Homo sapiens: one gene and its partners. The protein of the gene in region 1 purifies or fractionates together with the protein of each later gene. This does not show direct contact. Each region holds a gene or a part of one and is shown in the gene's direction. Other genes may lie near its edges.

Region 1 (3,500 bases):
CAGAGTGCGCTCCCTACCTTCAGGTCAGCTGATTAGCAACCTGCATTCCCTCTGCCTCTAATTTCCCCTTCCTATGTAATATAACATACCCACAGGTTCCGGGGAATAGGATGTGAACATCTTTGGGGGTGCTGTTATTCCACCCACCATGGAGACATTCAACCTTTCTAATTTCTTCCATTCTAAGTGAAAAAAATGGTGTTATGCTCTTTTAAGTTGCATTTCTTGATTGATTTCATTGGTGAGGTTGAACGCCTTTCTATTTGAAGAGGCAAATTTCTGTTATTCTAAGTTGTCCGTTCATACCCTTTGTCTCCTTTGCCACTGGGTTGCTCTTTCTCTCTCTCTTTTTCCAATTGAATTACGAATTTCTTAAGGGCAGAGGCCTCCTCACATTCACCTTTGTGTCCCCAGTCCCTCAAAATATGGCTGGTTCAGAGAAGGGATTCTGTGCCTGTTGGCCCTTCCTTTCTCCCAAATGTCGTCCCTCCCACTCCATTTTCTTGCCATTCTGCTTTGGAAAGAACGTCGGGAGGCTTCCGGCTGAGCAGCCTGAGTTGTGTCTGTGCACAAGAGCGTGTGCTGGGCTGAGACAAAGCGCGTCTGTGATTTGTTCCCAGCCCTGTTGGGACTTCTCTGGCCGCTGGGGCTCTGGCTCAGACTCAGTCCCTTCACTTGGGCGGCCGTTCACCCTACTCGGAGCCTCGGTTTTCTTATCCGTAAAAACAGCGATGGTATCATGCCTGACATTTAAGGGGTGCTGGGAAAGTAACTGAAACAAAAGCATCAATGCTTGGCAAGGGAGCACCCTGGTTGCTGGGCCGCCAGCACTTGCAGTGTTGATCAGAGCAGCAGAGCCCCTGGAAGGGGACTGGAGGCAGCTGCCGGAGGTCCAGGCCTGCCCGGCCAGGCTCTTCCAGGTGGGGCTCCACACCTGCATTCAGGATGGGGAGGATGCTCTGGGTCAGAGGGGAGAGCCGGTCCTTCCCTTCCTCAAGACCCTTCCAGAAGGTCTGCTGGGCCCCAGAATACCAGGCCTCAGGAGGGTCCTTCTCACCACTGGCTGCTACATGTGGAGCCCTGAACCCCCTTGGCTCAAGGGCTGGTGGTGGAAAGAGACCCTCCACCCTGAACTAGTCACATTATCTTGGAGGGACCTCTCTGCCTCCATTTCCCGGCTGGCAATATAGAGAAGGCAGTCCCTACCTGCCTCCTGCTGGGAGGAGTCACTGAACAAGATCAGGGCCGTCAAGCCTGATACCTCAAAAGGGCGATCAATGGCCATTCCTGTCATCATGTTCCCTCCTCCCCTGCCCTCCTTCCCCTGCTGTAAAGCTGCCGGTTCGTAGGCCTGAGCCTGACAGCAGGTCCAGGAGCTGAAGCAGCCCTGCTTCTGCCAGTGACCGGCGACCATGGCAGGTCACAGTGCCCTCGGCCATGGCTCCCTGTTCTGTGACTCAGGCCTTGGGGTGGACAGATTCCCCTCACTCCTTCTCTCCCTGTTTCTCCAGCCAGGCAGAGCTGGCAGCCATGAGGAGACAGCACCTGGGCTGGGAGGGCTGGAGTCCAGCCACCCTCCTCTAATTCATTTCCAAGCTGGCAGCTGCCTTTCCCTCTTGCAGGGACCCTAGACCCAGGACCCTGAGGGCGCTCTCTGTGGGCAGGGCTGTGGCTTTCTGGCAGGGTCCCTAGCGATGCCCCCTCTGCTGCCTCCCAGTCTTCACAGTCAGCAGAGCCCTTGGGGCCTGTCTTCCAGCCTTTCCTGTGCAGTCGGGCGGGCCTGGACCTCATTAGCACTTTTTATTAAATCCATATGTTCTGTGTGGAAGACCAGCCCTGAGTCCCTGTGCTCCCGCCCTGGGTGTGGGTGGGGGAGAACTGTGCACAGATGGCGATTGTGTGAATTTGGTGTGGGATCCTCCAGGCTCTGGGCTGCCAAGCCTCCTAGGCATGGAGATGCTGAAGGGCAGTGCAGCCAGGCAGGGATCAGGAGCGACTAGAGTCTGGAGGCCTTTCCTGACCCTGCTGAGCCTGTGGGGTCAAGAATGGGGAATGGAAGCGGGCCTGGCCCTTCCTGGGCACTGTGGGCCTGCTGCTCTGCTCTCCATTGACACATCTGCTCCCTGTGCCCTTCCCCAGGAGTGCATCATCGACGAGGACTGTGGGCCCAGCATGTACTGCCAGTTTGCCAGCTTCCAGTACACCTGCCAGCCATGCCGGGGCCAGAGGATGGTGAGTATGCCAGGGCCTCTGGGGCTGTGGCACCAGGGTCTCAGGCACCTGGGGGAGAAAGCCAGGGGCCCCAGCGTTCTCAGCTGGGCTTCCCAGAAGAGCCTCACCATGATGGGGAGGACCCAAGAGGGCTCCCCAGAGGGCTGACTCCTGGAGGACAAGGAACTCATTCCAGTTTGGGATGACAGGAAGCCATCTGCAGACCCAGGGCCACTCCCATCCACCCCATGTCCTCTGGTCATGTTGTTTGTGTCATTGATGGTAGAGAAGGGGAGGGACGGCCAGGCACCGTGGCTACACCTGTAATCCCAGCACTTTGGGGAGACCAAGGCAGAAGGATCTATTGAGGCCGGGAGTTCGAGAAGGGGAGGGAAGGGAGAGGAGGTGTCCCTACACCTGTTGCTTCCCCTGGGGATGACCCATCCTAATAGACAAACAGAGACATTCCGGCAGCCCCCAGGCAGGGAGAGCGGCAGCTGCTCTCCTTCTGGACCTGCACCCCACCCACCAGATCTTTCTCCAATCTGCCAATAAGAGAGGGCAGAGGGACAGGGCAAGAAGAGGCCAGGGCACTGCCCCAGTGCAGGTTAGATTGGGAAATGTGGAGCCAGGGCAAAGGAGACTCTTCACCCAACAGGCATTTTGGACGAAGCCACATGGACTCACAGACTTTTCATAGTCATTTTTCCTTATTCAGACAATAACACAGCATGCTAATAAGCTTGGAAAGTCAAGCAGTTCTTATTACCTTACCCGACTGTCTGTGGTGAGGCCACTGCTGTTGCACCTCGCAGCCAACCCCACTCGGTACCGTCACTGGGCACAGCCGTGGGGACCTCACTTTGCTCTCTAACTGCCATGCCCTGTGTGGCTGCAGGACCCTGGCACCCACAGGCCATCCTCATCTTGGGCTGGCTTGGGCCTTAGTTTAATCGGCTCATCATTGGGCCTTGCCTCTTTGGGCCTGGACCTAGGGACCTAAGGAAAAAGGGAACAGCACAAGTCTGTGGGGACCACAAAGACCCCCTGCTGTTCTTTGCAAAATCTTAAGCTGTGGAGAAAGACTCAGATCCATGAGTCCTCCCGGTGCCATTTTTCCAGCGTTCTGACCCCCATGTCTCGCCAGCCAAGCTCCCACCTCTGTCCCACTGACTTTCACTGAAATCTCAGCCTGGTCTGCCTGTCTCTACAATGGGAGGATGCAGGTTGGCCTATCTGTGGTATCTTCAGGCTGGGCTCTCAGCAGGCCCCCAGTCCCTAAGCCGCTG
Region 2 (2,870 bases), on another chromosome or scaffold:
AGCCTCTGGGGCCTTCTGTGGGGGGTGGACTCTGCCACGGTGACAGTCCCACACACATTCTCACCACCCATGCCCGCCGCGAGGCTACAGTCCAGGCTGACCGTGCCCGTCACCTGGTTTCACACCCTGGTGGGCTGGGATGTCACCGAGCAGCCAGGCAGGCTTTGGCAGTGGATGCCTCTGGGCCCAGTAGCATGCTCCCGACGTAGCCCTGTGGGGCCCAGGGCTGGACAGATGAAACTCTGGGAGTTTTCAGAGGCTTCCAGGAGGCTGCCAGCTTAGGCTCTGAATGCCTGGGCTTGGGGGCCCAGGCCCCGCCCTCAGCAACACGCAAGTCCAACTTTCCCATCCCATCTGGTAGCAGAAGGTGGCCTCAGGTTGTCATGGGCTGTGGGTCTCTGAGGGAGGGGACCGTGGGCTGTGCATCATGACGATCTCTGGTACGCCTATGCCCACACTGGGTCCTGACAACAGGACGTAGCGCACCCCTGGACAGGGGTCTGGAGAGGGGGAAGGCCCCTTGCTCCCCTGTGGCTCAGAGCCTGGAGCCCCCCAGGACCCCCTGAGGCTGGCCCTGGCCCCGCGGGCCGGCTCCGGGTGGCAACCCCCAGGCAGCGCATGTCCCCCCAGGAGGCGTGGCTGCTGAACCGGGAACAGGAGCTGAGGGAAGAAATCCGGAAAGGCCGGGACAAGGAGATTGAGCTGGTCATTCACCGGCTGGAGGCCGACATGGCGCTGGCCAAGGAGGAGAGTGAGAAGGCTGCCGAGAGCCGGTAAGGACCCGCCATGGCTGGGTCACCAGCTGGGGAGGCCCACGAGCTGAGGCGCAAGGACCCGTGTGTGACTGGGCTGGAGTGACCCTGCCCTCCCCCCACCTCCAGCATCAAGCGCTTACGGGACAAGTACGAGGCCGAGCTCTCCGAGCTGGAGCAGTCGGAGCGGAAGCTTCAGGAGCGGTGCTCGGAGCTGAAGGGCCAGCTTGGGGAGGCCGAGGGCGAGAATCTGCGTCTGCAGGGCCTTGTGCGGCAGAAGGAGCGGGCGCTGGAGGATGCGCAGGCGGTGAGTGGGCGGGTGTCAGGTGGGCAGTGGGCACCCACAGGCCCCTCCTGCATGCACGCAGCCAGTCGCTGGCAGCCGGCTCACTGCCTTCTGTGCCCACCCAGGTGAACGAGCAGCTTTCTAGCGAGCGCAGCAACCTGGCCCAGGTGATCCGCCAGGAGTTCGAGGACCGGCTGGCAGCCTCTGAGGAGGAGACGCGGCAGGCCAAGGCCGAGCTGGCCACGCTGCAGGCCCGCCAGCAGCTGGAGCTGGAGGAGGTGCACCGGAGGTGGGCGGCGGGGGCTGCAGGGCTGGAGACGGAGGCGGGGCAGGGGAGCGGGCAGGACCTCTGCAGCTCCAAGCCCCAGGAGGCTGTGGCTGAGGAAGGCCAGGAGATGCAGAGACAGGGCCCTGTAGACAGAGGCTGGTGTGGGTTCCATGTTTGGGGCCCAGGAGACCTAGATCTGTTTTCCTCCCTGGTGCTTAGTCTAGGGTGTCGGCCATCCCTGTTGGGGCACCCGAGTGGGTCGGGTCTGGGCCTGGCGAGTTCTCCAGGGAGTCAGCTCCCGGGGCCCTGGGCTGGGTGGACAGGCGCTGAAAGAGCTGGGGCACTGTAAGGTTCCCAGCGAGCTCCCTCCACGGGGGTCCTGCATCCTTCCTGTGCCATCTGCTGCCACAGGCTGAGAGGTGGGTGTGGGCGAGGTGTCCCACCCCATCTGGGTACCAGGCCTCCCCAGGTGTGGCCAGGGTCATACTCCAGTGGCCTGTGTTGGGTCCTGACTCACAGCAGGTGGGTTGCCTGGACAGCTGTCTGGGCCAGCCACAGGAGTCGTGGTCAGCAGGGCTGGGACCAGGCTGACCAGGCGGCTGCCCCGTGCACCCTGTGCACTGCAGGCCACTCTGGGGACATGGGGCGGGGGCCACACTGAAGCCTACCATGTACTACCCACAGGGTGAAGACAGCCCTCGCGAGGAAGGAGGAGGCCGTGAGCAGCCTCCGGACACAACATGAGGTGAGTCCCTGTGGCCAGCCCTGCTGGACCTCGGGGCTGGGAGCAGGCCTGACCCTGTGGGTGTGCTGCAGGCTGCGGTGAAGCGGGCCGACCACCTGGAGGAGCTGCTGGAGCAGCACAGGAGGCCCACGCCAAGTACCAAGTGACCAGGGATGCCGGGAACACTGTCGAAGAACGGAAGGCAGAGGACAGAGGCTGGACGTGGGCCCAGAGGCCCACAGGGACGCCCACCTGCCCCCCACAGAGGCTGGTGGTTGAGATGCCCACGGCTAAGCACCTGTGGCTGCATTTTAACAGTAAAGGAGGCCGTTGTTTTCAGCGCCTTGAGTGACTGCCTTGTCTTCTCTCCTGGGCTAGAGGCTGCCCAAGACCCCCAGAGCAGCCAGGCGTGGGTTTGGCTCTCTTCCTCCCACTCCCCTCCGCAGCCTGAGCAGGCTGACCAGGAAATCACGAAGCTTGGCCATCAGCCCCCCAGCTAGCAGCCCTCAACACTCAGCCAGCAGCCCCCAGCACTCAGCCAGCAGCCCCCCTGCACTCAGCCCTCAGCTCCCCAGCATTCAACCCAACCCCCAAGTTCCTGTTCCCTGCCTTGCCCTGGACCCTGGAAGTCCCAAGCACAGGGAATTCCCTACCCCGTTCCTGGCCAGGCGCAGGAGGAACTCAGCAGAACTCACCCCCTGGGAGGAGCTCCGAGGGCCCCGCCGTGGCCCTGCAGGTGCTGGAAGCCCATGGCTGCCAGCGTGCTCCTATGGCTGGAGAGACTCCAGAGGGACAGGAAGCCCTACCCTCCCCGCTGTCAAGGTGTGACAGTCTGGAGCT
Region 3 (3,500 bases), on another chromosome or scaffold:
CATTCTTATTTGTTTTCCTTCCTTAAGGGAGCTCCTACCTCCTCCCATGTCCTGGTTGGGTGTTGCCTTGGTGGCCTAGCCCAGTGCCAGGGCTCACAGGAATGGCTTGTGCTTGTCTATGTTTATCGCAGAGGCCGGTGCTGTGAGTCAGAGCTGGTCATTCCCGAGTGACTGATGGTGGAGGGAGGGGACAGCAACCTGGAAAGCTGTGATCACCTTTGTGTGCTAGCAGAGTACTGTAAAATATTAAAATATAGGATTGGCCGGGTGCAGTGGCTCACACCTGTAATCCCAGCACTTTGGGAGGCTGAGGCGGGTGGATCGCTTGAGACCAGGAGTTTGAGACCAGCCTGGCCAACATGGCGAAACCCCATCTTTACTAAAAAATACAAAAATAAGCCAGGCGTGGTGGCACGCACCTGTAATCCCAGCTACTCAGGTGGCTGAGGCAGGAAAATTGCTGGAACCTGGGAGGCGGAGGTTGCATTGAGCCAAGATCACGCCACTGCACTCCAGCCTGGCTGACAGAGTGAGACCCTGTCTCAAAAAAAAAAAAGAAAAAGAAAAAGAAAAAAAAAAGATAAGTTTTTAGTGCTTAGACTTTTTCAGATGGGCTCCTGAAAAGATGCCTATGAAATGAAATGATCATATGTCAAATTATATTTCCTAGCTATTGTCATAATTTCAGGGTTCTGGTCCCATAGGAAAAGGGAGGGGGAAAGACCAGACTCCATAAAAAGCACATATGGGATTTCTTTCAAGGGTCTCTCTTTATAGGATGTAGTTTCTGGACATGTAATTCTCTCACCTGCCACTTCCAAGAAGTCTCCCTTAAAAGAACTAGGCAGCGTTTGGGCTGGACTATGGATTGATTGGTGGGAAGAACCCACATGCACTATGGGGTTAGATTAGGTTTTCAATCTCATTGGCCAGGGAAATCAGGTCGTATTGAATGCAAGTCAGCTGAGCTTAGATGTAGCAGCTCAGCACATCTTCCTTTGGTCCCAGAGTCCCCAACAGAGGCACCAGCTGCATGTGACACTGTCCCCACAGATGCTCGCCCAGACCAGGAAAGCTCTGTATTTGCCACCTTTGTCTATCTGTCCTAGTGGCTCACACCACCATTCTGGAAGAATTTGTACAACAATCCAGGTACTTCATTCACAAAGAAGTGTTTGCAAACAGCCGGTGTTCCTGGATCTTAACCTACCTACCGGCAAGGATACTTCCTTACCTGGGGGACAAAGCAGAGGCCATGCCCAGGGAACCCTCTGCTTACGGATTCCAGCACTCTCCCCTGTTTCCTCATTGTCAATTTTTAAAATTAATTTTAATATACGTTTTTAATTTATGAAAAATAAATTATCACATATTAAGATATGCAATCCAGAGGCATAAACTAGGGGGAGGTTGAATGTTGAAGCAGCCACCCTGGATATGCCATGGTTTGAGGCATTCGAGAAGCCTTCTTCATCAGAAAGGGCAGCATGGAGAGTTTTTCTAAGCTAGATTCAAGCAGTGCAAAGGTTGACCCACTCTAAACCTGATTCTGAGGGCTTGGTGGCTCTTGAAGGCTTGGTGGTCAGCTGGTCGGTTTTTCTATCCTTTCTACCACATTAATGTTGATTTAGGAAACGATGTCTGTTTGAACCCAATGAACACCACTAAGCTTTTTCCTCCTCCTGGTGGCTTCAAAGGCAAAGGGAGACCTAAGTCAGGTGTTCTTGTAGGAACTGCACATACCGCAGGGAGCAACTGGACCCCTGTGGCCAGAGGGAGCCAACAGGTGAGTGCAGAGTGATCAGCAGGCAGGTGAGAAACCCAGGTGGTGGGAGAGAAGACACATTCCCAGCTTATACATAATGGGGCTGCTGCCATGATGCACAGAAGCCAGACGTCTTTTTGTAAGATTGCCTCTGTAGCCTTTTTTATTAATCTTTCTTAAAAAAGAGATGAAACTTGTGCTTAGAGGCTATATTCTTTGGCCTCTTTGGGAATAATTAATTGCTTTCTCTGTATAGGTAGAGTATAAATGTGAAGGTTTCCTGGAGAAAAACAGAGACACCGTCTATGACATGCTGGTTGAAATCCTGAGAGCAAGCAAGGTCTGTAAAGTCCTAGGGGTAACTAAAGTTATTATATAATTGACATGGATCTAGATGTATATAAGGAAAGAGTAAGGAGAGAGAGAGAGAGAGTGTGTGTGTGTGTGTGTGTGAACTCTCTGGACAGTGGTAAGTTGTAGCTCACAGATTCAAAAAGATAACTACTGTAAATCTCTACTATATGCAAAATCAGAAATCAAACATGCAGATGACAGGAAGGACAGCTAATAGAACCATTGAAGAATCACAATTCCAGCCAGACGTGGTGGCTCACGCCTGTAATCCCCGCATTTTGGGAGGCAGAGGCGGGTGGATTGCTTGAGGCCAGAAGTTTGAGACCAGCCTGGCCAAAAAAGCAAGACCCTGTCTCTTCTAAAAATATAAAAAAACATTAGCAGGGAATGGTGACATGCCTGTAGTCCCAGCTACTTGGGAGGCTGAGGTGGGGAAGACTGCTTGGCCCTGGGAGATAGAGGCTGCAGTGAGCCATGATTGCGCCACTGCACTCTTCTTCTGGGCAGCAGAGCAAGACCCTGTCTCAAAACAAAACAAAACAAAACAAAATATGAAATTCACTCTGAGAGAAGATAAGACATTTAAAGAAATAACTGATACAAAGCAGAAGGTAGTAAGTGCTTTAAATGAGGTACAAATACAAGATGAAGACGGTTCAGAGAAGTTGGGATTAATTCATTCATTGCGAAGTGGGTGGGGCTGGAAAACATTTTAAGAGATTCCTGGGTAGGGTTTGGATCTGCAGGGATGAGAATGTGGAGTAGGAGGGAGGAGATTGCAGGTGGAGACACAGTGTGAGCCAGGCACGGAGGTGAGAATAGTAGATGTTTCCACTTTCTGACACTTAGAGTGATACCCACATACAGACATTTACACACTTTTCTTCTCTGTTCCCCTTCTCGGGAAAGAAGTCACGGGCCATCCCTATGAAAGACGATCGTCTTGTGGAATTGAGATTTGGCTGTAGATGTTGGTGAGGTTGTTCACCGCCCACTAGTTTAGCTGAGTTGTTGTCACCATTTACGTGGCTTGTATGAGTGAGTACTGTGGGCAGTTGCTTTTGGACATTGAGATCCTCTCTGTTCCTTCCAGTTTCATCTCTGTGCCAACTTTTTTCAAGAAAATCCAACTCCTCCTTCTCCTTTTGGTTCAATGATTACAGTTAAATCTGCAAAGCAAGTCATCAAGCCAAACAGCAAGCATTTCCGGACCACAGTTGGGAGCAAGGTACTGAGAAGGTGTTTGAGAGTGAGGGGTCTAAAGGCAGGGCCAGGCCCTGGGGAGCCAGGGCACTCAGAGGACCCGCATTCCAGGCCTGGACATGGACAGACGCTGGGGCTCTTCCAATCTAACATGGACTCCACTGCAAAAAGTTCATCG
Region 4 (3,500 bases), on another chromosome or scaffold:
ACCACCCCACTCCCAATCTTTCATCAACTTTATTGAGGTATAATATACTTGAAAAGTCCCTCATTTTAAGTGTACAGTTTGATGAGTTTTGACACATATATTCTGTCATGTAACCACCGCCACAAACAAGATGCAGAACATTTCCATCACCCCAAAAGTTCCCTTGTGCTTTGTCTCTTATCTTCCCCAACATCTTCAGGGAGTTTACTGGAGTTATGCTTGCTCATTAGGGCAGAAGGAAGTTTTTTCTTTTTGGTTTTTCCGAAATGAATGCTATGGTTCCACCTTAGCCCAACCAATAGAGATACTTATTACAAAGGCCTGGCATTGGAGATCATGGCTGTGGAGTTTCATTTTCAGTGGGAGGCGGAAGTGGATATAAAAGGAGTTTAGATGATTTTTGTTTAATCTTTCCTTCACACACTGACCACTTTGCCTTTATTAATGATGTCTGCCTTTGATGCCTTCTGAAATGCCCTTTGGTTAATTTTGCCCTTTAACGGTTCCTCTTCCCCATCTGTCTTGGTTGTAACATCAGTCTGAGTTTGTGCTGATACAACCTAAACTTTGCAGAAACTTATCCCTGGCTCTTCATGCCTCAGGCATTCTCCATTTCTCTTCTAAGCCCTCCTCACTTGGAATTCTTTTTAACTAGCAGGCATTAGCGTTAAATATCTCCTTGTACAGCAAAGGCTTTTTGCCAATTGTAGAACTTAGGGATGATGTAATTATTTTTTGATTTCAAAATAATGGTTCTAAACTTGATTGAAATCAAGGGAGAAGTGCATTGTACATAATGCACTAAGTGTTCATGAGGACCATGTATCTACCTCCTGTGGCCTAATGTACTACTGTGGCCAAAAATGTGGGCAAGATGCTGGGCTAGAGGGAGACTGGATGCACAAAAAAGATAGGTTTTGTCCATCTTTTGTCACATATACAAAAACATATAGTCCTGGCCAGGAATCCTGCATGTGTGGTTGGGGTTTCTACTTCTTGACAAATGTACATGAAACTAGAGAAATTTCAGAATAGGAGAAGTAAAATGATCAGGGCAGTGAAGAGGCTAGACAGATTAAAGGTGTCGAACTCTCTAGTTTAGAAAGATGAAGGTGAGCTGGGAATACAGTAGAGGTTTTTTTTTTTTTTTTTTGAGACAGAGTCTCGCTCTGTCACCCAGGCTGGAGTGCAGTGGCGTGATCTCAGCTCACTGCAACCTCTGCCTCCTGTGTTCAATCGATTCTTCTGCCTCAGCCTCCCGAGTAGCTGGGACTACAGGCATGTGCCACCACCCCTGGCTAATTTTTGTATTTTTAGTAGCGATGGGGTTTCACAGTACTGGCCAGGCGGGTCTCGAACTCCTGACCATGTGATACGCCTGCCTCGGCCTCCCAAAGTGCTGAGATTACTGGCGTGAACCACTGTGCCCAGCCCTATAGTAGACTCTTTGACATCCAGAATAGTGGAAGTTTGTAACATCAAATCTCAGTTTAGTAGGGATATGTTTTAGATCTTGAAACAAATCAATATATGCCATTTTAAATGAATTTCTACTTTAAACATTTACATTTTACATTTCTGAAACTCATCACTTCAAGTTATGGTATTAGCTGAGGTACAGGATGTAAATAGAGAGGGTCTGGGTAATTTATGGATGAGAGGTTTGGCACATTGACTTACCAAACCTCTCTTTAACAGTGTTAGTCAGTTTACCAGCCACAGCTGTTTTAGTTGGAAGAAACAGAAACCCAAACTCAAAGCCAAAGAGGAGTTTATTTGCTCATGTGACTTAAAAATCTAGGCATGGCTGGAATCAAGGCTCAGACATGGTCATTGGGGCTCTCTTCACTGACTCTCACATGCTGTCTGACATTGGTTTCATCCTGAGGGCAGCTTTTTTTAGGGGTGAAAAGATGGTCAGTGGCACCTGCAGATCACATGATCTTACAGCACTGGGCCTGGAGGAAGAGAGCCTGATAGAGGAATTCTGGTCATGTGCCTTCTCCTTTCATTGGGCCTCTAGGCAGTAGGTGAGGAGCACCATGAGTGGTCAAGTCTGTGCTCACCCCAGAGACCAGGGGGAGGACAGGGCACTGTGATTGATAGTCCTACTCCAACCTCATGGGATGGCTGTGAGCTGTTCGCCATTGGAAGGAAAAGTGCTAGGTAGTCAAAATAAACAACTACCCTCAGTCCATGTATGCTATGAATAGGTCACTGAAAATGATAGTCATGGAATTCTACCCCTCCTTTTCTGATCTTTGAGCAAGAAGAATGGGAAATTTTGCTTGACCGGGGACATTAGGTATCTTTCCCCTAGAGAATCATTTTGGATTGAAAAATAGAAGCCAGGCCAGGTGCGGTGGCTCATGCCTGTAATCCTCAGCACTTTGGGAGGCCAAGGCGGGCGGATCATGAGGTCAGGAGCTTGAGACCAGCTTGGCTAACACGGTGAAACCCTGTCTCTACTAAAAATACAAAAATTAGCCGGGCGTGGTGGCGTGTGCCTGTAATCCCAGCTACTCAGGAGGCCGAGGCAGGAGAATCGCTTGAACCCGGGAAGCAGAGGTTCCAGTGAGTTGAGATCGTGCCGGTGCACTCCAGCCTGGGCGACAAAGCAAGACTCTGTCTCAAAAAAAAAAGCCATGGAGCGTCTGTGCAAGCAAATGTTACTAATAGCATGTTAGAAATTGAAATTTTGAAAATTTATTCAGTCTTCAATTTTGATTTTTCATGTATTATTATTATTATTATTATTATTATTTTTTTTAGACAAGGTCTCGTTCTGTTGCCCACACTAGAGTGCAGTAGCGCAAGCATAGCTCACTGCAGCCTCGAACTCCTGGGCTCAAGCAGCCCTCCCAGCTCAGCCTCCTGAGTAACCGGGACTGTAAGCGCATGCCACCATGCCTGGCTAATTTTTTAATTTTTGTAGAGACAGAGTCTCACTTTGTTTCTCAGACTAGTCTCAAACTTTTGGCTTCAAGCAATCTCCCACTTAATTATCCCAAAAGTGCTGAGATTATAGGCGGGAGCTACCATGCCCGGCCATTATTCAGTCTTAATTTGGGGGCTATGAACCCTATGTCACCTTTCTTACTGATTTCTTTCTACCGTATTTCCTCAGCATTTTATTTCCCCTATTTTCTTCACATCCTTGCTTGCATACGTTATTCTCTTCCCCTATTTTCATACATAGATAAGTTGCACGATTTCTTATTGCACAACAGTAAGAATTGTGCACAATTTCTTTTTGCCTGTCCGTCATTCCTTGTTCATGTCTAGTGGTAGTCTGTCTTCTGTTCTCTTCCTTCCACCTGTTCATCTGCTTTATCCCCCTACTATTTAATTTTATCTACCCACCCCTTATGCCCTGTTATGATTTGTTATAACGAAGTATATATACATCCCACACCTATAATGGAATAAAATAAGTTACTAAAGGGTGAATCTTTTTTTCATAACTTAGATTGAGGAGGGAACTTCATTTTTGTTTTTGC
Region 5 (3,500 bases), on another chromosome or scaffold:
GTTGGCTATTGTTTCTACCATTGTCAGCCCTCTTCAATTAGGGCACAAACAAGCTACATTTTTTTTTTTTTTCTCTCAAATGGGTGTGGATGGTCTGCTGGTACAGGCTTCATCTTTGACATCGCTTCGTCCCTTCTTCAAATGAATTATCCACTTAAAAACTGATTGTCCCCATAAACTTTTCATAAAGTCATGATTTCACAATTCTTCTCTCCACACTTCGTCATAAATTTGATGTTTGGTCTTGCTTCAATTTTAGTAGAATTCATGTTGCCCTGATAGGGGCTTCTTTTCAAACTGATGACTTAACTTTCTTAGTGCCTCAAACTAGACCCTGTTCTAGATCCCATTCATACTTGTTATAACAAGTATAAAACTATGGGTTTGTTTTGGTGCAGAAAACTCTGAAATCCATGTGAATTTTTTTCCATGATATGCATTTTCCATGACCTTGAAATAGTGCTCATATGAGGCTAATGGACAATTGAATAAACCCTTAATCTTCGGAGCCCTAGTTTTGAAGAACAAGAATTAATATCGGATTGCTTTTAAAGACAATACTTGTAGGAGAAAACACTCAATTTGATTTTTAGTTAGAAATGAATACATTGCATGTTAATTCTTAGGAATGATGAAGTAGTGGGAGTCTGAACTTGGGTTTCAGTGTACTTTTTCTCAGGTTATGGAGATGTACAAAACTGGTGTCACCAGAGAAAGGTCTTGGATATAAGACACTTAAAAAGTAGCTTCATTGGTGTGAGGGGTTGGCATAATTAATCCCAAACAAATATTAGAGTTCTTCCCTAAGGGCTGCTGGGCTGCACCTTGCTCTGTTAATGGGTTTCCAGTTCTTAATCATTTAGGGTCTTGATTATGAAATTAAGGAGATTTTCTGGGACCCAAGACAGTATCTTCTAGATTTATGTTTTGAGCAGTTGTTATTCTTCCTGGCAATTAACACACTTGTGCTTTACTATGAGAAGCAGTTGTGTAGTTGCCTAACCATGGTCTCCCCACTTGCCAAGCTGGCTTCTCAGTATGCATGTGAATCATAAGTTACACAGGGAAGTCGTGCCTGCTACTCAGATTCACTTTGTTTCTTAGAGATTATTCATTTTAGTGTATTATCAAAATAGCCAATGTTCCCTTTTATTTTTAACTTGCTAGTGGGCTTTCCTAATGTGATGAACACTGGAGCCAGACACACACATCAATGTATTATGTATGATGGAAATAATTACCCATTATGCTAACAGCATTTATACATTTTTGGGAATGGAAAATTTAAAGCCCTTTGATTATACCTGTTGCTTTTGTGATAGTTAGAAGATGTTATTATTGGAATATGAAACATTTAAATATATATTAGCTTGTATTAAATACTGTTCAGTAAGAAATTAGTGTATTTCTAGTTATCTAAGAAAATAGTTTCTTTTTCCCTCCATCCAATTAAATGTGTTCTTGCTCTTCTTGATCTGTTCCCTTCAAGTGGCAGTTTATATGTTATGTGATTTTTTTTTGGTAGGTCGGGGGCCAAAGGGCACTTCTCTTTGAACAGAGACACTCCTGTTCTCAGAAGACCCAACACCTCACCTTTGAGAAATTGTTTTCTTTGTAGTGAGGTTTTTCTGGATGGAGAAAGAGCACCAGTCAGTGCCAGACACTTTCAGGGTGATGTCAAAGTGAGTCAGTCTCATTCACTCTCACATCAGCTCCAAAGGTGGAGCTGATGATGGTCTCTGTTGTCACAGTGGCATGCATGTGGTCAGTGTGAGTGCTTGGCTTCCAACCCATTGGAAAAGACAATGTGGGCTTTGCTTTGCATAGATCCAGAAAGAAGCCCACACATGTGCAAGCATGGTGAATACCATTTCATCATGATGATTGCAGATAGTAGTCTGATTTTAAAGCATAAAATGTAACCTCTCCTTCTCAGGCTGAATAATACAACTCTTATCTATAGAAGAGTTACTTGGAACAAAAAATTTAAATACTGCTATTTCAAATACCTGGATTTTCAATATGCTACTTTGATTCTAGCCAGCAGAGTGAATGAGAAATCATCAAATTGAAACTGGTGCCTTGAAACCAGTGCCTTCAAATAACCTTTTTTCCTGCTTGGCTTCTAATTGATAGGTAGTGTCTGAGCAGTGGGTTTTTGAGTGCTGCTGGGAGGTTACTTTACTGGCAGACACACCATATGTATGGCAGCTTTGCACCCAGGAGCCTTTACTAAGGGCGCGATTTGGGACCAATCATTTGAAAAATAGATCTTCTGTGCTTTTGGGCAGGTGTCCTTTAACAGTCCCTTACCTATACCTCAGGTAATGTAAGTTTCTCCCAAGTGTCAGTCTGAAGGCAGCAAGAGCCACCTGTTTCCTCTGTACCCAGTCACCCCTGCTGGAGGGGCTGATGATTCCTTCTTTTGCTGGTGGCTCTGAGTGATGTTCTTTTTTCCAAAAAGTGGTGACAGTGTTAAAGACATGAGGACTTGAAAAGTGTCAGCAGATGCTGTTAGTGCTCCTATTGTTTCCCCCTTACTCCCTTCCCTGCATACTGCCTTGGTGTTAGCTCACTCCCAATAGCCAGCACCCATCTCTTTGTCAAAGCTCCTGAAGCTGTTTTGCCTGTGTGCATAGGGAGCCTGGGAATTGACACTCTGCAAAAGGGAACAGTCCTTAACCAATGGCACTGTAATGACATTAGTTTCCTATCTTGTCACCTTGAGAATGGAACAGCTCTAAAGTATGACCCATACTGTTTTCAGTTTCTTTGTACAGTTGAACTAAAGTTACCATGCTTGGGACTTTCCTTAGTATCACATGTTAGCTTGACTTCCTTCCCTCTCTTGTCCACCTTCTCTACTCCCCTACCAGTCTTTTCCGGAAAACACTGCCTTACAAGTCTCTTGAGCAGGAATCCTTGTCTCAGGATCAGATTCTAGGAGCCCAAGTTAACCATAACTCATGGTGGCTTAGCTTAGTGGATGTTGAGAATCTCAAGGGCTTTGGCCCCTCTATGGTCCCAGGAAAGGCTGAAAAGAAGCATGGAGGTTGTGTGTCATGCTGTCACTTTCCTTCTGAGGCTCATTCTCTGTCTTGCATGTGGTTTTTTTCTTCTCTCATCCCTAGTTCCAATTCCGTTGATCCTCTGCTCCCCGTTTTCAGATGGGCCTATAAGCCCAGTGGATCCTGCTTCACCATGTTGGCGATCATCAGAATTTTGAAGTTTGTACTTGTGACTTGTGGATGTGGCATATTCCAATGGCCTGTAACCTGTAATCATTGAGCAGGCTCTTGCCCTGCCCTCCTTTGTTGATAGGTGTGTGTGTTTTTTTTTTTTTTTTTTTTTTTTTTTTTTTTATGACAGAGTCTCACTGTGTCACCAGTCTAGAGTGCAGTGGAACGATCTCAGCTCACTGCAACCTCTGCCTCCTGGGTTCGAGTGATTCTGCGGCCTCAGCCTCCTGAGTATCTGGGACTACAGGTGTGTGCCACCAC
Region 6 (3,500 bases), on another chromosome or scaffold:
TATAGAGGAAGAGAGGAGTTGAGCTGAGTTCCAAAGGATGGGTAGGATTTGTAAAGGTGGACTCGTGGCTGGAGAGCATTCCAGGTGGATTAAGCAGCATGAGCAGGGGTTGGCGGCATGAAAGCTGACTCTGGGTGACAGTGAATAAGTTAAGTTGTTTGGAAGGGAAGGGGTTGGTGTTGTGGAGAGGTGGGAGGAATCACCAGCTCTCCATATGGCCATTGGCTAAGGCCCAGGTTTTTAGGTCTACCTTTATACCCAATCTCCACATCATTCAAAATCCTGGGTGTACAGATGTATATGTATTTGTATGTATCTCATCTGTGTGTCCTTGATGACTCTGAGAACTGGCTGTGGTTCTCATTGTACAGATCAGTGATTGTTCATGACTTACTTATACATTAAAATAGTTGGTTCCCTGTAGCCATAAACACAGTGCCAGCAAAGGGTAGCACCCTTACCCTCCTCTGAAACTATAAATTCTGACCCAGACAGAAAACAGTCCTCTCTTTCCTTTCACTTTGCAGAAGGTGACCAGAAACCCACCACTGCGTAATCCAGGTGCTGTTCTGTGATGTTGAAGTGTTTTTGTCTCCTGGAATATTGGTGGTTGGGCACATATTTCTGGTTGTATATAGCTGAAATTGAGCGTGTTTGGTCCATTGGTATATATGGATGTGTGAGTGAAATTCCCATGTGTGCTTGTACCTCATGACTCCTGCCCTCCCAAGCTGTAGTTCCTGCTCTTACTCCCCAGTCTGGAATGTCCTGTCCTCCCTTCCCACCTGGCTCTTCTGCAAGGCCTGCTTCCTTCCTTTAAGTCATGTAATAGTCAAGCACTCAAGGCTGCAGGTGCTTCATGGGTCTGTGTTTTCTCAACAGCAGCACCTAGCATAATGCTGGGTACAGAGTACATTCCTTCATGACAACATTTTTTTGTAGAGAGGGAAAAATGCTTGTTACTTTTTTTTTTAAAAGCTTATGTGGCATTGTCCTTTTAGAATTATCTTCTTGTTTTGCTATTAATCTGGCCTTCTTTTTCCCTCTTGGAGCTAAAGCTTGATTTTTAGACAACTGCCACAATTGATGCAACTTTCTCCTACCATTTTTACTTTTAAAAATTGACCTAGGCCGGGCGCGGTGGCTCACGCCTGTAATCCCAGCACTTTGGGAGGCCGAGGCAGGTGGATCATGAGGTCAGGAGATCCAGACCATCCTGGCTAACAAGGTGAAACCCTGTCTCTACTAAAAATACAAAAAATTAGCCGGGCGCGGTGGCGGGCGCCTGTAGTCCCAGCTACTCGGGAGGCTGAGGCAGGAGAATGGCGTGAACCCGGGAAGCGGAGCTTGCAGTGAGCCGAGATTGCGCCACTGCAGTCCGCAGTCCGGCCTGGGTGACAGAGCGAGACTCCGTCTCAAAAAAAAAAAAAAAAATTGACCTAGATGTGTGTCTGGATGGGGCAAGAGTAAAAGAGTGATGTGGATTACTGCGAGTTAGGATATCTGAGAAGGAGCTTCAACTTATATTTCTTGCTTTATAACAAAACCTGCGGCCGGGCGCGGTGGCTCACGCCTGTAATCCCAGCACTTTGGGAGGCTGAGGCGGGCGGATCATGAGGTCAGGAGATCGAGACCATCCTGGCTAACACCGTGAAACTCTGTCTCTACTAAAAATACAAAAAAAATTAGCCAGGCGTGGTGGTGGGTGCCTGTGGTCCCAGCTACTTGGGAGGCTGAGGCAGGAGAATGGCGTGAACCTGGGAGGTGGAGCTGGCAGTGAGCCGAGATTGCGCCATTGCCCTCCAGCCTGGGTGACTGAGCAAGACTCCGTCTCAAAATAAATAAATAAATAAAACCTGCTTGTGTTCTAACAAAACCCTGGAATATCTGAGAAGGAGCTTCAATTTATATTCCTTGCTTTATAACAAAACCTGCTTGTATTGTGAGGGCTCCTTCTTTCCCTCCCAGAAGTCTCTTGTTGGGGGATATTTCTTTTGACTTTTTGGTGGAGATGGAGGTGGTGGTGATAAGTTCCTCATTCCAATTTCCAAGGGTCTCTGCTCAGGCGTAAGACCTCTGTATGAGTCCTGCCTGCTTCCATGGTCAGGAGCAGTTCCTGCCAGCAACCCTGATGACCACTTGAAGCCCTAACCACAACATCCCTGTCCTACCATGTTCTGCTTTCTCTGTAGCCACTTCCTTTTTGGATGTGGAGCTCATTGGTTCCTTTTCTCCTTACATGGGCCATTCCTATACGTGAGTTCTTCCAGCATTAACATCAGCTTTGCACCCTCCCTCTGAGAGTCCTGCCAGGGCAAGCTGCTTGCATCTGCTCCTCGGCGTGCTCCTTACTCCGCACACTCCTCACTCTCAGCCATGTGCGTGAAAGGAAGAATGCAGGCTACTGCTCAGGAGTGGACTTGAGCCACGGACGGTGTCCTTGACAGAAATGCTTTCCATTTTATAGGACAATGAAATATACGTTAGACTTCCAGAGGTCCAGTTTCTTAACTTTATTTGTTATTGGTTCCTGTTTTGAGAATAAAGCATCTATTCAGTCTGATATCTTGGCTTCTCAGAAATTTAATTTTTCACCCTCTCTTTTCTTACTGGGTTTTGTCTTCCATAAAAGCAATCATCTGAAGCACTGTGCATGCCAAAGCTCCATGCAACTTCTCTTTTTTAATCTAACACAGTATGTCTTTTGTACCTTTGCTTAGACCTGGGATTTTCAGCCTTGTCACTATTGACATTTTAGACATTTTAGACTTTGTTGTAGGGGCTGTCCTGTGTGTCGTAGGATGTTTAGAAGCATCCCTGGCCTCTACTCACTAGATGTCAACAACTCCACTCCTCTTTCATTTATGACAACCAAAAATGTCTCTAGACATTGCCACAAGTCCCTGGGGGGGTTGTGTGTGGGTGGGTGTCTTTGTGCTCACATGCATGCAATATTATCCCTAGCTGAGAGCCACTGGCTCTTGCTGTTTTCACCCCCTGGAATGTCCTCCTTTCCTCATCTCTGCCCTCATTCCCTGCCTGCCATACTCTTACTCATCCTTCAAGACCAGATGTGAGAAATCTTTCCCAATCCCCCAAAACAGGTCAATGTCACATTCTCATGTGCTCTCAGGATACATGGACATTTATTCATAACAGAGAATTTATCATATTCATATTCCTCACCAACCTATGGAATCCTCAAAGGCAGATAGCCTGTTCAGAGGTAGATCCAGGTTTTCTGGTGCTTTGAACCTCATAATGCTTGGGGGCAACCACCTTTAAGAAAAAGAATGTAAATCATGAATGCAGAATAAAATGCAAGGCTTTGGAAGGGGAAGGTGCAAGTGAGTGGCTGTGAAGCAAACCTACCTTTAATCCTTTTGCGTTTTCTGTGATGCTACAGAATTTGCCCTTCCCCATGTTTAATACATCTTAAAATGAATTAACTGAGTACTCAAATGTTGGCTGATTGGTCTTCAACCAATGGAATTATTTCT
Region 7 (3,932 bases), on another chromosome or scaffold:
ATGAGGTCAGCAGTTCGGACCAGCCTTGACCAATACGTTGGAAACCCCGTCTCTACTAAAAATACAAAAAGTAACCAGGGGTAGTATTGCACGCCTATAATCCCACCTACTAGGGAGGCTGAGGCAGGAGAATTGCTTGAACCCAGGGGGTGGAGGTTGCAGTGAGCAGAGATCTCGCCACTGCACTCCAGCCTGGGCAACAGAACGAGACTCCGTCTCAAAAAAAAAAAAAAAAAAAGCGCGATAGGCGATTACTGGTCAGTGGTCAATATAGGTCAAGGGACGAGACAGGAGAGAGCTTTCTAAGGTTGTGGGCCTTTTTATTTTTTATTTTTTTGAGGCGTAGTCTCGCTGTGTCGCCCAGGCTGGAGTGCAATGGTGCGATCTAGGCTCACTGCAATCTCCGCCTCCTGGGTTCAACCAATTCTCCTGCCTCAGCCTCCCCAGTAGCTGGGATTACAGGCGCCCGCCCTCACGCCTGGCTAATTTTTTGTATTTTTAGTAGAGACGGGGTTTCACCATGTTCGCCTGGCTAGTCTTTTTTTTTTTTAGACGGAGTCTCACTCTGTCACCCAGGCTAGAGTGCAGTGGCGCTATCTCAGCTCACTGCAACCTCTGCCTCCTGGATTCAAGTGATTCTCCTACTTCAGCCTCTCGAGTAGCTGGGACTACAGGTGCCCGCCACCCCGCCCGGCTAATTTCTGTATTTTTAGTAGAGACGGGGTTTCACCATATTGGCCAGGCTGGTCTCGAACTCCTGACTTTGTGATCCGCCCGCCTCAGCCTCCCAAAGGGCTGGGATTATAGGCGTGAGCCACGGCGCCCGGCATCCAGGCTAGTCTTGAACTCCTGACCTCAAGTGATCCGTCCGCCTGGGCCTCCCAAAGTGCTGGGATTACAGGCGTGAGCCACCGCGCCCGGCCAGGTTGTGGGTTTTAATGGGACCATCTCACTGCCTACCGTTTCCTTTTTCCGTCCGAACAGAAGGGGCCTGAGCAGTGAACTGACAGTGGCAACGCCGGGTGAGGCGGGATGGAGGAGTTTACGAGCCTGGGTGACGCCCTGTTCCGCGTCCTGGCCCCGCCCCTCCCGGCAGAGCCCCTTGGCGCGTGACACAGGCCCCGCCCTTGCTGTACGCCATCAGCCGGCGCCGCGCCGCCGGGTGTTACTTTGCCCCGCCGGCGGGGCGGTCAGCCTCCTGTCACCGCCTGTTCCGGCTATGGTCCCGTCCGGTGTTCTGTAAGTTGGCAACCTAGGCTCCTGACGCGACCCTGGTCCTGATGGCGGCGGCGACGGCCGCGGCAGCCCTGGCGGCGGCCGATCCCCCTCCCGCAATGCCGCAGGCGGCAGGGGCCGGAGGGCCCACAACCCGCAGAGACTTCTACTGGCTGCGCTCCTTTCTGGCCGGAGGTGGGTCCATGCCACGAAGAGCCAGCCGCGCTCTGAGTGGCGGGGGCAGGACTGTGGGCAAGTGGGATGCAAGCGGCCTCTATGACATTCCTGGACTCTGGCTGCTTCAATGTTCTGTTAGATGTCTGCCCTGACCTGCTGTAACCTCTTTCTAGTAATCACTTGACTAATGACAGCTAGGTTATGGGGAGTGGGACCTTTGGCACTCCGGCAGAGGCTGGGGAGGTGGAAGGTCTGAATCAGGCACCCATTCTTCAGGGCTGGATAACAGGGAAAAGAGGAGGATCCCTTACAGAGACCCTGGGGTTTTAGTGAGACATGCTGGGCACTCCTTTCTTTTATAAAAACCGTGAGTGACCCAGTGTAGACTTGGATTTTGCTGTTTGCTTAAAGGAAAACAAATATTGGAGATCAGCTTTTTAATGACTACTGGAAAATTGTGCAAACTGTCTACAGCCAAAACTGGTTCCAGTGATTCTAGTAAACTGTGACACAGTACTTGACAAGCCCTATTATTGATGTGACTTTGGGATCAAAAAGTTCATATTGTCTCTTAGGAATTTCCTGGGCCTTCAAGCTCCACCCTTCCTTAATTACTTCTCTGGGTTGTGTAGGGGTGGGTTGCCCCTCCACACCTGTGGGTGTTTCTCGTAAGGTGGAACGAGAGACTTAGGAAAGAAAAAGACACAGAGACAAAGTATAGAGACAGAAATAAGGGGACCCGGGGAACCAGCGTTCAGCATATGGAGGATCCCGCCAGCCTCTGAGTTCCCTTAGTATTTATTGATCATTTGTGGGTGTTTCTCGAAGAGGGGGATGTGTCAGGGTCACAAGACAATTGTGGGGAGAGGGTCAGCAGACAAACACGTGAACAAAGGTCTTTGCGTCATAGACAATGTAAAGGATTAAGTGCTGTGCTCTTAGATATGCATACACATAAACATCTCAATGCTTTACAAAGCAGTATTGCTGCCCGCAGGTCCCACCTCCAGCCCTAAGGCGGTTTTTCCCTATCTCAGTAGATGGAGCATACAATCGCGTTTTATACCGAGACATTCCATTGCCCAGGGACAGGCAGGAGACAGATGCCTTCCTCTTGTCTCAACTGCAAGAGGCATGCCTTCCTCTTATACTAATCCTCCTCAGCACAGACCCTTTACGGGTGTCGGGCTGGGGGACGTTCAGGTCTTTCCCTTCCCACGAGGCCGTATTTCAGACTATCACATGGGGAGAAACCTTGGACAATACCTGGCTTTCCTAGGCAGAGGTCCCTGCGGCCTTCCGCAGTTTTTGTGTCCCTGGGTACTTGAGATTAGGGAGTGGTGATGACTCTTAAGGAGCATGCTGCCTTCAAGCATCTGTTTAACAAAGCACATCTTGCACCGCCCTTAATCCATTCAACTCTGTGACACAGCACATGTTTCAGAGAGCACGGGGTTGGGGGTAAGGTTATAGATTAACAGAATCTCAAGGCAGAAGAATTTTTCTTAGTACAGAACAAAATGGAGTCTCCTATGTCTACTTCTTTCTACACAGACACAGTAACAATCTGATCTCTCTTGCTTTTCCCCACAGGTTGTCATTACTTAATTATTTAAGATTCAAAAATTTAAAAATTCCACATTGAAGTTGTGTGCAGTGGCTCACTACTGTAGTCCCAGTTACTAGGGAAGCTGAGGCAGGAAGACTGCTTGAGTCCAGGAGATCGAGGCTCCAGTAAGCCATGATCACACCACTACCCTCCAGCCTGAGCTACAGAGAGAGACCCTCTCCTAAAAGAAGAAAAAAACAAAAACAAACAATAAAAATTCGCTGGGCAGGGTGGCTCACGCCTGTAATCCCAGCACTTTGGGAGACTAAGGTGGGCAGATCACTTGAAGTCAGGAGTTTGAGACCAGCCTGGCCAACATGGTGAAACCCTGTCTCTACTAAAACTACAAAAATTTGTCAGGCGTGGTGGCACTCGCCTGTAATCCCAGCTACTCAGGAGGCTTAAGGCAGGAGAGTCGCCTAAATCACTGTGGAGGTTGCAGTGAGCCGAGATCCTGCCATTGCACTCCAGTCTGGGTGACAGAGACACTCCATCTCAAAAACAAAATAAAATAAAACAAAAAAAACCTCACATTATGAGGATTTGTAGAAAGATAATATCTGAAGACTGCAGCAGTATTAAGTTTTTTTTGTTGTTGTTGTTGTTTTGAGACAGAGTCTCACTCCCTCACCCAGGCAGGAGTGCAGTGGCGTGATCTTGGCTCACTGCAACCTCTGCTTCCTGGGTTCAAGTGATTCTGCTGACCCAGCTTCCCAAGTAGCTGGGATTACAGGGGAATGCCACCATGCCTGGCTAATTTTTTTTCTTTTTCTTTTTTGAGATGGAGTCTCACTCTGTCGGCCAGGCTGGAGTGCAGCGGCACGATCTCTGCTCACTGCAACCTCCGTATCCGGGTTCAAGTGATTTACCTGCTTCTGCCTCCCAAGTAGCTGGGATTACAGGCGTGCACCACCATGCCCAGTTAATTTTT

Evidence for each region.
Region 2: the proteins of DKK3 (region 1) and CEP131 purify together in Homo sapiens (affinity purification with mass spectrometry; 2 studies listed by BioGRID and IntAct, with this or other methods). This does not show direct contact.
Region 3: the proteins of DKK3 (region 1) and MYO5C purify together in Homo sapiens (affinity purification with mass spectrometry; 2 studies listed by BioGRID and IntAct, with this or other methods). This does not show direct contact.
Region 4: the proteins of DKK3 (region 1) and MYO5A purify together in Homo sapiens (co-immunoprecipitation; 3 studies listed by BioGRID and IntAct, with this or other methods). This does not show direct contact.
Region 5: the proteins of DKK3 (region 1) and MYO5B purify together in Homo sapiens (affinity purification with mass spectrometry; 2 studies listed by BioGRID and IntAct, with this or other methods). This does not show direct contact.
Region 6: the proteins of DKK3 (region 1) and MYO1D purify together in Homo sapiens (affinity purification with mass spectrometry; 2 studies listed by BioGRID and IntAct, with this or other methods). This does not show direct contact.
Region 7: the proteins of DKK3 (region 1) and SLC25A16 purify together in Homo sapiens (affinity purification with mass spectrometry; 2 studies listed by BioGRID and IntAct, with this or other methods). This does not show direct contact.

What each region holds. Positions count from the first base shown.
Region 1 is NC_000011.10:11,967,127-11,970,626, reverse strand, and holds part of DKK3 (dickkopf-related protein 3 isoform 1 precursor), read left to right. Parts: intron 1-2,139; coding exon 2,140-2,232; intron 2,233-3,500. UniProt on the Homo sapiens protein: Antagonizes canonical Wnt signaling by inhibiting LRP5/6 interaction with Wnt and by forming a ternary complex with the transmembrane protein KREMEN that promotes internalization of LRP5/6.
Region 2 is NC_000017.11:81,189,096-81,191,965, reverse strand, and holds the end of CEP131 (centrosomal protein of 131 kDa), read left to right. Parts: intron 1-615; coding exon of another isoform or gene 616-630; coding exon 631-773; intron 774-881; coding exon 882-1,059; intron 1,060-1,163; coding exon 1,164-1,327; intron 1,328-1,990; coding exon 1,991-2,051; coding exon of another isoform or gene 2,052-2,122; coding exon 2,123-2,197; 3' UTR 2,198-2,370; downstream 2,371-2,870. UniProt on the Homo sapiens protein: Component of centriolar satellites contributing to the building of a complex and dynamic network required to regulate cilia/flagellum formation.
Region 3 is NC_000015.10:52,247,305-52,250,804, reverse strand, and holds part of MYO5C (unconventional myosin-Vc), read left to right. Parts: intron 1-2,021; coding exon 2,022-2,105; intron 2,106-3,212; coding exon 3,213-3,347; intron 3,348-3,500. UniProt on the Homo sapiens protein: May be involved in transferrin trafficking. Likely to power actin-based membrane trafficking in many physiologically crucial tissues.
Region 4 is NC_000015.10:52,518,881-52,522,380, reverse strand, and holds part of MYO5A (unconventional myosin-Va), read left to right. Parts: intron 1-3,500. UniProt on the Homo sapiens protein: Processive actin-based motor that can move in large steps approximating the 36-nm pseudo-repeat of the actin filament. Can hydrolyze ATP in the presence of actin, which is essential for its function as a motor protein. Involved in melanosome transport.
Region 5 is NC_000018.10:50,188,648-50,192,147, reverse strand, and holds part of MYO5B (unconventional myosin-Vb), read left to right. Parts: intron 1-3,500. UniProt on the Homo sapiens protein: May be involved in vesicular trafficking via its association with the CART complex. The CART complex is necessary for efficient transferrin receptor recycling but not for EGFR degradation.
Region 6 is NC_000017.11:32,870,625-32,874,124, reverse strand, and holds part of MYO1D (unconventional myosin-Id), read left to right. Parts: intron 1-3,500. UniProt on the Homo sapiens protein: Unconventional myosin that functions as actin-based motor protein with ATPase activity. Plays a role in endosomal protein trafficking, and especially in the transfer of cargo proteins from early to recycling endosomes.
Region 7 is NC_000010.11:68,524,724-68,528,655, reverse strand, and holds the start of SLC25A16 (solute carrier family 25 member 16), read left to right. Parts: upstream 1-1,132; 5' UTR 1,133-1,280; coding exon 1,281-1,410; intron 1,411-3,932. UniProt on the Homo sapiens protein: May be involved in the transport of coenzyme A in the mitochondrial matrix. Very little is known about the physiological function of this carrier.